3 linked regions of the Homo sapiens genome follow. The protein of the gene in region 1 interacts with the protein of each later gene in a pairwise test. Each region holds a gene or a part of one and is shown on either strand. Other genes may lie near its edges. The genes, in order: GNE, NBPF19 and NID2.

Evidence for each region.
Region 2: the proteins of GNE (region 1) and NBPF19 interact in a two-hybrid assay, tested with the Homo sapiens proteins (one large-scale study listed by BioGRID).
Region 3: the proteins of GNE (region 1) and NID2 interact in a two-hybrid assay, tested with the Homo sapiens proteins (one large-scale study listed by BioGRID).

The regions. Positions count from the first base shown.
Region 1 is NC_000009.12:36,244,894-36,248,546, reverse strand, and holds part of GNE (bifunctional UDP-N-acetylglucosamine 2-epimerase/N-acetylmannosamine kinase), read left to right. Parts: intron 1-2,064; coding exon 2,065-2,516; intron 2,517-3,653. UniProt on the Homo sapiens protein: Bifunctional enzyme that possesses both UDP-N-acetylglucosamine 2-epimerase and N-acetylmannosamine kinase activities, and serves as the initiator of the biosynthetic pathway leading to the production of N-acetylneuraminic acid (NeuAc), a critical precursor in the synthesis of sialic acids.
Region 2 is NC_000001.11:149,499,023-149,502,675, reverse strand, and holds part of NBPF19 (NBPF family member NBPF19), read right to left. Parts: intron 3,604-3,653; coding exon 3,431-3,603; intron 2,722-3,430; coding exon 2,670-2,721; intron 2,020-2,669; coding exon 1,847-2,019; intron 1,133-1,846; coding exon 1,024-1,132; intron 391-1,023; coding exon 218-390; intron 1-217.
Region 3 is NC_000014.9:52,059,039-52,062,691, reverse strand, and holds part of NID2 (nidogen-2 precursor), read left to right. Parts: intron 1-2,335; coding exon 2,336-2,568; intron 2,569-3,653.

The sequences.
Region 1 (3,653 bases):
TTTGAGACCAGCCTGGCCAACATGGTGAAACCCTATCTCTACGAAAAATACAAAAAAAAAAAAAATTAGCCAGTTGTGGTGGCGCATGCCCGTAGTCCTAGCTACTCGGGAGGCTGAGGCAGGAGAATCACTTGAACCCGGGAGGCGGAGGTTGCAATGAGCTGAGATCACACCACTGCACTCCAGCCTGGGCAACAAGAGTGAGACTCCGTCTCAAAAAAAAAAAAAGCAAAGGTTGAATAATCTGAGAGAACAAGGCGTATTACATACATCTTGATGTATGTAATAAAAAGTCATTTAGTGCACCCTTGTGGCATGAATATATTAATGCAGTCTCCAAAGAGGATCACAAATACAATACTGTATCTGAAAGAACCTTGCGTTAAAATAAAATTGTCCTTTTCAGACTATTCTTTAAAAACAAGGTGGGAATTCGCTACTAGGAAATACTTAAAGAGTAGAGAAGAAACTTAATGGATAGCTCAGGGATCCACAGATTTTTTTTTTTTTTTTTTTTTTTGAGACGGAGTTTTGCTCTTGTTGCCCAGGCTGGAGTGCAGTGGCGTGATCTCGGCTCACTGCAACTTCCACCTCCCGGGTTCAAGTGATTCTCCTGCCTTAGCCTTCCGAGTAGCTGGGATTACAGGCATGCGCCACCATGCCCGGCTAATTTTGTATTTTTAGTAGAGACGGGGTTTCTCCATGTTGGTCAGGCTGGTCTCAAACTCCCAACCTCAGGTGATCCACCTGCCTCCGCCTCCCAAAGTGCTGGGATTACAGGTGTGAGCCACTGCGTCCGTCCAGATTTTTTTTTAATATAAAATGAATTCTGGCTATTTAGGAGCATCCTCTCAGTAGAACAGAAATTTTAGCTAGAGCCTGAGATGAAAGTTTGAGTGGGTTCTTTTACTGCTCTGAGAAAGCTTTGACAGGAAGACTAGTGGAAGAGAGGCTCTCAGGGAAATGGTAGTAGGTTTTTTATCTGCCTACCACAGTTACCAAGGGTGGAAGAATAGTGTTTATCTGATGAGACCGTTAAATAGGAAATTTGACTAGTACTTAATGAAAATGCATGTTTAAGGTACATTCTAACACAAGAAATTGGTTGCTTCTTGGGAGAAGAATTGGATGACTGGGAGACAAAAGTGAGAGACTTTTCACCATGAAATGTTTTCTTAAAGAAAAAAGGTTTGGCCAGGCACGGTGGCTCACACCTGTAATCCCAGCACTTTGGGAGGACGAGGCGGGCGGATCACGAGGTCAAGAGATTGAGACCATCCTGGCCAACATGGTGAAACCCTGTCTCTACTAAAAATACAAAAATTAGCTGGGCGTGATGGCACACGCCTGTAGTCCCAGCTACTCGGGAGGCTGAGGCAGGAGAATCGCTTGAACCTGGGAGGTGGAGGTTGCAGTGAGTCAAGATCGCACCACTGCACCCCAGCCTGGGCGACAGAGCGAGACTCTGTCTCAAAAAAATAAAAAAAAGGGTAAAAAACATTTTCCCCTAAGTGTATATAAAAAGTGCTGACCACTGTTAAAAGTTTAGTCTCTTTCTTCCTAATAAAAAAATTCTCTGGCCGGGTGCAGTCGCTCACGCGTGTAATCCCAGCACTTTGGTAGGTCAAGGTGGGTGGATCACCTGAGGTCAGGAGTTCAAGACCAGCCTGGCCAACATGGCAAAACCCCATCTGTACTAAAAATAGAAAAATTAGCTGGGTGTGGTGGTACATGCCTGTAATCCCAGCTACGCAGGAGGCTGAGGCAGGAGAATCGCTTGAACCCGGGAGGCAGAAGTTGCAGTGAGCCTAGATCGCGCTACTGCACTCCAGCCTGGGCAACAGAGCAAGACTTCATCTCAAAAAAAAAAAAAAAAAAAAAAAAAAGAATCTTAATCAGGCTGTTTACACTTATGGTCTATGCTTTTTATGTTTGTAAGTTATACTTCAATTTATTTATTTTAATGTTTCTCACTTCAGAGTTGGTGTTAGATTGCTTTTCTTGCATGTTACGGCTCTGTGTTTAAGAACATGTTCTTATATCTTTATTTCTCCCCGGCTTTAGAAATACATATCGAATGATTGAACAAGATGACTTTGACATTAACACCAGGCTACACACAATTGTGAGGGGAGAAGATGAGGCAGCCATGGTGGAGTCAGTAGGCCTGGCCCTAGTGAAGCTGCCAGATGTCCTTAATCGCCTGAAGCCTGATATCATGATTGTTCATGGAGACAGGTTTGATGCCCTGGCTCTGGCCACATCTGCTGCCTTGATGAACATCCGAATCCTTCACATTGAAGGTGGGGAAGTCAGTGGGACCATTGATGACTCTATCAGACATGCCATAACAAAACTGGCTCATTATCATGTGTGCTGCACCCGCAGTGCAGAGCAGCACCTGATATCCATGTGTGAGGACCATGATCGCATCCTTTTGGCAGGCTGCCCTTCCTATGACAAACTTCTCTCAGCCAAGAACAAAGACTACATGAGCATCATTCGCATGTGGCTAGGTACGTATCTCAGACTTTAGTCAGTCTAATGGCTGTTTTTGTCAGAAAATGTTCCGTCTATTTCAATCCTTTTGGAAACTATTATGGATAGAATACTCTGTTAGCAATGAGAAGGCCAAGGTTTTAGTTCATAGACCTTGCCCTGTGGTATGACTTTACCTCTCTGAGGTTTACCTTTTCTGTAAAATAGGCTTAGTGGATTGAGTTTTAAAAATCTCTGCTATATTTATAGAATGGAATGCTTTTAATCCATTAAATATATTAGTTATAAGAACGATCCTAATATGTCAAAAGGGGGAGCTATAAAATTATAAGTGTAATATGCCATTTCATTTTATTTTATTTATTTTATTTTTTGAGATGGAGTCTTGCTCTGTTGCCTAGGCTGGAGTGCAGTGGTGTGATCTTGGCTCACTGCATCCTCTGCCTCCCAGGTTCAAGTGATGCTCCTGCCTCAGCCTCCCAAGTATGTGGGATTGCAAGCGTGGACCACCATGACCGGCTAATTTTTCTATTTTTAATTTCACCACGTTGGCCAGGCTGGTCTCGAACTCCTGACCTCAAGTGATCCGCCCACCTTGGGCTCCCAAAGTGCTGGGATTACAGGTGTGAGCCACTGCACCCAGCTGTAATCTGCCATTTTACTAAAAACTGTAATAATGGAATGGTTAGGAAGTATGTACACCAAGTCATTTATTATATTTATTTCTGGTGTGGGATTATGGGTGTTTTTATGTTTGATTTTCTGAATTTTTTTTTTGTTTTTTGAGACAGAGTCTTGCTCTGTCATCCAGGTTGGAGTGCAGTGGCACAATCTCGGCTCACTGCAACCTCCACCTCCCAGGTTCAAGCGATTCTCCTGCCTCAACCTCCCGAGTGGCTGGGATTACTATGCCTGGCTAATTTCATATTTTTAGTAAAGACAGGGTTTTTCCATGTTGGCCAGGCTGGTCTCGAACTCCTGACCTCAGGTGATCCGCCCACCTCAGCCTCCCAAAGTGCTGGGATTACAAGCGTGAGCCACCGTGCCTGGCCTGATTTTCTGAAATTTTTTACTACATTGGCAAAATGGTCATTTTTTTTTTTTTTTTGAGATGGAGTCTTACTCTGTTGCCTAGCCTGTAGTGCAGTGGCTCA
Region 2 (3,653 bases), on another chromosome or scaffold:
AGGCATGGCCTGAGACTAGGAAGAGAGCCTTGCTCACTGACCCATCCCTTGTCTGGGCTGCCAAGTGGAACTAGAGTTTCATTCAACCTACATGTGCCTATAGGTCCTCCCTGTGGCAATGACATCTCTCAGCTCAGTAAGGGCCACTTGCAGTAGGAATATGACCCTAACCAGAAGACTCAGTGGATCCTTATCACCTTCATAGAAAGGTACTCACCATCCATGTCAACAGCCAAGCCAACACACTGTTGCTCCAATATGTAAAAGGCACTTCTGTAGGGCTGGCATGAGTCAGTCAGTTCAAGACAACCTGAAGGAGTTGAATAACATCTATCCAGTGAGTCCTGCAAGACTTCAGGCCCTTTCTCATCCAGCAGCTCCCTGCTGAGCCTGGAAAAGTGGGAAAAAGTAAAGAATAAGCCAGGGGGAATCAGAAACCGCACAGCCCCAGCTAGATTTCATGGCTAACGTTAAGGAAGAGTTTGAAAAGAAAAAGGACAGATCCATTAATGAGGTAACAAATTATTGCCTTTATGTTGGGATAGAACAGGGCCAGGTAGAAAACAATGAAAGAGAAAGACAGAGAGAGAGAGAGAGAGAGACAGAGACAGAGAGAGAGACAGAGACAGAGACAGAGAGAAAGTGACCTAGTGAATTGGCCAGGTGACATACTGGTAAGGGAGTAAAAGGACACTCTGAGTTAGTGCCCTCATGACACACAGCAAACTGTGATCATGAAAAGAGTGAGCTCAATAGTTTTCCATAAAATATGCTCAAAATTCGATGCAGTGGCCATGAGAGTACAGCTTTTGAAGTATGGTCAACCTATGGTACGTTAGGAAATGATAAGGGGAGGAAGAAATGGAAACCTAAACATCTACTGCAATGAAAACCAACAGCAATGACAGTAGGAGTAATTCAGCCTTCGTTGAAAACATGACATCAAACACACTCTGGTTTCCCTGAATCTGTTGCCTCCAGGTGTTAACACAGAATTAAGCATCCACAATTGCTGAAAGTCACCTGGGGCATGGTGGGTTTTGATCTTCTTCCCCTTCTTTTCTTCCCCTTCTTCTTTCCTTCTTTGATCTTCTTCCCCTTCTTTTCTTCCCCTTCCCCTTCTTTTCAATTTCTGCAATAAATTCAGACATGGACAGACACATTAAGCTGATTCCCCTACACACATAACAATCCACTGTCTAATCCTCACACAGGGACCTCAGGCTCCTCAGCATAAGAATAGGACACTGTGAGAGATATATTTCAGGAGGCCTGAAGGCTGGTCATGATAGAAATTCCTCGGTTTTTCTCCCAGAAACTGTGGGTAAAATGTCCCTATTCTAGTAGATCGTTATCCCAATATCATTTGTCCCAAGTTTGTGCAAACAGTTATGCCATATTTTTCCAATCAATTTAAAGCAAATACCCTCAAATGATTTCTAGGAGAAAAACTGCAATATTTAGCCCTGTCTCATCAAATACTCAGATTGTTCATGGTTGTGAGGACTTTAGACACTGAAATTAGAGTGAAAAAGGAAATCTACAAACCCTTGAGTCAAAATCATAGTTCTCTGAATTTGTCACATCTGCCCAGGTCCAATGTCATGAGAATAGGATCAGGGCGCCACAGGTATGGCCTGAGACTAGGAAGAGAGTCTTGCTCACTGACCCATCCCTTGTCTGGGCTTCCAGGTAGAACTAGAGTTTCATTCAACCTACATGTGCCTATAGGTCCTCACTGCGGCAACGACATCTCTCAGCTCAGTAATGGCCACTTGGAGCAGGAATATGATCTTTATATGGAAGACTCAGTGGATGCTTATCACCTTCATAGAAAGGTACTCACCTCCCACGTCAAGAGAAAAGCCAACATGTTTTTCCTCCAATGCATAAAAGGAACTTCCATAGGGCTGGCAGGAGTCAGGCTGTTCAAGACAACTGGAAGGAGTTGAATAACATCTATCCAGTGAGTCCTGCAAGACTTCAGGCTCTACTACCTCCACCAGCTCCCTGCTGAGCCTGGAAAAGGAGGAAAAAGTAAAGAATAAGCCAGGGGAAATCACACACAACAGAGCCCCAACTAGGTTTCATGGGTAGCATAGGGAAGTGGTTAAGAAAGTAAAAGGATAGATCCATTAATGAGGTAACAAATTATTGCCTTCATGTTGGGACAGAACAGGGCCAAATGGAAAAGAATGAAAGAGAAAGACAGATGGACACACACACACACACACACACACGCACACACACACACACACACACACAGAGAGAGAGAGAGAGAACGAGCTCAGTGAATTGTCCAGGTGACACACTGATGAGGGAGTAACAGGACACTCTGAGTTAGTGCCCTCAGGACACACAGCATACAGTGATCATGAAAAGACTGTGCTCAATAATTTTCCATAAAATGTGCTCAAGTTTCCATGCAGTCGCCATGAGAATACAGTTTTTGAAGTCTGGTCCACCTACAGTAGGTTAGTAAATGATAAGGGGAGGAAGAAATGGAAACCTAAATATCTACTGCAATGAAAACCAACAGCAATGTTAGTAGGAATAATTCAGGCTTGCTTGAAAAGATGTAATCGATAATGTCAGCCCGCTCTGTTTTCCCTGAACCAGGAGTCTCCAGATGTCAACACAGAAGTAGCTGTTCACAATTGCTCAGTTACCTGGGGCATGGTGGGTCTTGGTCTTCTTCCTCTTCTTGGTCCTTTTTAATTCCTGCAATACATTCAGACAGGGACAGACAAAATAAGCCAATTCACCTACACCCATAACAGTCCACTGTCTAATCCCCACACAGGGATCTCAGGCTCCTCAGCATGAGAACAGGACAATGTGAGAGATATACTTCAGGAGGCCTGAAAGCTGGTCATGATATTCTTTGGTTTGCATCTCAGAACCAAGGGTGAAATATCCCCATTCTGGTAGATCGTTATCCCAAAATCACTTATCCCAAGTTTGTGCAAACAGTTATGCCTTATTGTTCCCATCAGTTCAAAGAAAATGCCCCAGATGATTTCTAGGAGGAAAACTGCAGTATTCAGCCCTGTCTCATCAAATGCCCAGCTCGTTCATGGATGCAAGAATTTTAGACACTGAAATTAGAATGAAGGAGGAAATCTACAAACCCTTGAGTCCAAATCATAGTTCTGTGAATTTTTTGCATCTGCCTGGGTCCAATGTGCTGAGAGCGGGCTCAGGTTGCCACAGGCATGGCTGGAGACTAGGAATAGAGCCTTGCTCACTGACCCATTTCATGTCTAGGCTTCCAACTGAGACTACAGTTTCATTACAACCTATATGCGCCCACAGGTCCTGCCTGCGGCAATGACATCTCTCGGGTCAGTAAGGGCCACTTGGAACAGGAATATCACCCCTATCTGGAAGACCAGGTGGAGGCTTATCACCTTCATAGTAAGGTACTCACTGTCCACGTCAAGAGCCAAGCCAAGGTACTGTTCCTCCAATGAGTAAACAGCACTGCTGTAGGGCTGGCCTAAGTCAGGCAGTTCAAGATAACCTGAAGGAATCGAATAACATCTATCCAGTGAGTCCTGCAAGACTTCAGGCTCTTTCTCATCCAGCAGCTCCCTGCTGAGCCTGGAAAAGTAGGAAAAAGTAAAGAATAAGCCAGGGGGAATCAGAAACCA
Region 3 (3,653 bases), on another chromosome or scaffold:
CTTATCTTATGGAATTTCTCTAAATTTAGAACCAGGATTCTCTCCTATCTCACATTTATTATGGCAGATCAATGCCAGGAGCTTTGAAAGCTTAGCTTTTTGAAATGGGGTTTTTTCTCCTTCCTCTAGTACTTTTCTTTCCCTAGTTGATTTTTCTTTATTCTGACTAATGTATAACTCTGAAGTTATTGAGTCCACATTAGTTGATGATGTCGACTATCTTATGGATAGACATGAGGCAGAACAGCCTTTGTTTATATTTGGCAGTAGTTGTGGCTTCCTAGTATTGAGAAGCTCTAAAAACATTTCTTGCTTTTTGTTTTTGGAAAAGTCAAGCTTTGCTGATGAACAATCAACAACTGGAACAATAACAAATAAACTAGGCACCTGTTACTTTGTGAATTGAATGAATGAAAAAAGCAAAGCAAGATGTTGTTTTTTCTGGGTTAGAGAACTAAAAGAACTGCTGATTGTATTTTATTTTCTCTTGAAAAGTGTGTTACATCTATATTTCTTTATCCTATTAGCAAAACCTCAAAACCTTACTTTGAAATTAAACATTGAAAGGAAAAATTAACATTAGAAAAGAGCTAGAACAACTGTGGGAGTAGACTTAGAACAAAGGGAAGAGCCCATTCCTTCCTTGCTGTTTCCTTCAGTGAAATGTGATGTTCTTCTCTGTGCCCGAGTTTGTCTGTCTAGCAGAATGGAAAGGTAATGATACTTACCAGTAAATAATATTTCTAAGAGTCACATTATTTGTGAAGTAAGTTGTGTTTTAAAAATACCTTCCCAGTTCCTTACTAAATTGTAAAAGTAGTGTGATTTAGTGAGAGAGAGACAGTTTCAGAAGCCTAAACATAACAGCTTTTTGAGAATCAAGCACTGTTCACAGATCTTTAGGAGGAGCGGTCGCTGAATGAAGGTAAAGGCAAAAATCTCATCTTGTTGAAAATATGAGGGTAAACAGAATGTTAAGGAGTGATCCTATAAGGACCTGGGTGTTGAATTGGCAGCTGATTCAGGCTCCTGGTCCCTCTCTGGTCTGTGTTGGCTCCTGCAGTGTTTATAACATTCACCAGCTGCCTCTGTGACACCTCCCAACCTCCACCCTGAGATCCTGGACACACACCCCGGCTCTTGGCCTCTACCACCTTCTCCAGTGACTCTCCTACCATTTCAACCATGGCTGTTTCCCAGTCCTACACCGTGAGACTCTCCTGGGCAAAGCCTGTCTTTTGCTCCTTCACATCCTCAGCATCAAGCATAACGTCTGGTGCTTAAGTAGACACTTGGCTGTTTGAATTAGTGTATGAATGAATAAATGAATGGTGTTTACAAACATATAAACAACTAACCAAGCATAATGAGGTGAATGCTCACTAGAGATGCCCATAAAGGTGTTACAGAGGTTCAGAGAACAGAAATTATTCTATAGGGAATCACAAACACCTCTGAGTGGCAGCATTTGAAGGTTAGGAGGCTTTCTAGGCACAGGGAACCACGAACAAAGTGTAGAAGCATCCAAGGACATGGTACAAATGGGGACTATTAAATAGTCTGACAAAGATGCAGTGGAACTGAGCCTGGGAGGGACGTATGCAGCCAGGTTACAACTCACCTTGAATGCCATGTTGAGGAGGGGTTAGGGTGTCCTAGGGTGTGGGCTCTAGAGCTGGCTGGCCCACCACCACATACTTGCCACCTGACCTGAGGAAGACCTGTTAGCCCCTGTGTCTTTTTCTCATCTGTGAAATGAGGATAACCCTGATGCTCGTATGAAAGGGTAGATGGAAGAGGAAAGAGAGTGATGCTGTGAGACAGTAAGGAGGCCTTTTGACCAACTAGTGCCTAACACAGTGCCTGCCCATAGTGGTCATTTAATAAATGGATGAATGAATGAATGAATGAATGATGCAAATGAGAGATGCTGAGTGCCTAGGGTTATAAACTAGGGCAGTGACTGCAGGATGGACAAGTTAATTTTGCTGATTGCTCTTAGCTCTGAAAGAGTTTACATGAGAGAAGTTTGAAACCTTACAAAGTATATATTTTTTAACCTATGTTTTACCAATGCGTATTTCAACTATTAATCTAAATTGACAAATGGTATTTGCAATAATAAATAATATTGCTTATGAAATTATATTGTTAACTTGAAGAGGAAATTTTAAAGAAGGTTATGTTTAAAAACAATTTGGAGGAATCCTGAAAAAGGGGAAGTTCTTTGCACGTTATGATGCTTTGCTTGCATTCTGTTTCTTTCTTCTTTTATTTGTTTTTTACAGGATGTTTCTCTCTCTCTCTCTCTCTTTTTTTTTTTTTTTCCTCACAGCTGAACACTTTCCAGGCAGTTTTGGCATCTGATGGGTCTGATAGCTACGCCCTCTTTCTTTATCCTGCCAACGGCCTGCAGTTCCTTGGAACCCGCCCCAAAGAGTCTTACAATGTCCAGCTTCAGCTTCCAGCTCGGGTGGGCTTCTGCCGAGGGGAGGCTGATGATCTGAAGTCAGAAGGACCATATTTCAGCTTGACTAGCACTGAACAGTCTGTGAAAAATCTCTATCAGTAAGTAACATTGAGCTGAAGCCCTTTCCTATTTGAATATAAGGACTTTTAGGAAGTACCTGAACACAAGTGACCATAAGACCATTACATAATATATTGGTGGCTTCTAAGTAAGGCATCAAGTCAAAACCAAGGAACTAGATTCAACCCTGGAAGGATCAAGTTCACCAAAACATAAAAGGTCCTTTATTTTTCCTGCTCTATTGGGTATAGATACTGGAAACAGAACAGTATGTGTGTGTATTTGTAGAGCCACTGAGGCTTGCTATGAAAAACATTGCTCTTGGAACCACATAAAAATATCCAGTCATAAACTGCCCAGTTTGAGGTTTTCCAGATTAATCATTTCACAGGAGGAAACATTGTGATTTAGTCTTTTGGACAGATACTGTTAAACATTAAATTGAGCAATGTAATTTGCAGGAAAAATAACTAAGATTTATAGGTTTCCAGAAGTCTGAGGATGTCTCTCTGGCTTCATTACCTAAAATGAATTGAACCCATTCCTTAGACTCATCAGTGTCTGCCCATAATGGGCATTTAATAAATAGATGGGTGAATGAATGAATGATCCAGAGGGCTTACTTAGCTAGTGCAATAATAAGCTCTTCTGCATTTTGCCAGTACAGATAGTGCCAGTAGGATATTTATTGACTTCAGGGTTTTTTGGGGGGTGTGTGAGGGGAGGTAGGGGTGCCCTCGCTTTTATTCGTTTCCTGAATATAGAAGCCAGATAGAATACATTGGTTACTTCCTGGCCTCCTTTAACTGCTTCTTGACTTCATTAAATCAATCCTGGGTAGGTATAGAAACACCTTACACTTTTAGCATGCCATCCACTCTGCTCGGCTACCAGAAAGAGACCACTATAGCCAGGTTTGCTTACTCAGAGCTGACATTTATTGAAAACTTACTACTTGCCAAGCATCATGCTAAACACTTTCCAGATGTTATCTTAATTAAAACTCACAAGAATTGTAGGTTAGTACTACTATTTTCCCAGTTTTACAGAGGAGCTTAGGGAAGTTAAGTAAATTGCCTATGATCTCAAAGTTAAGTGGCAAAGCCAAAATCCAAGCTCAAGT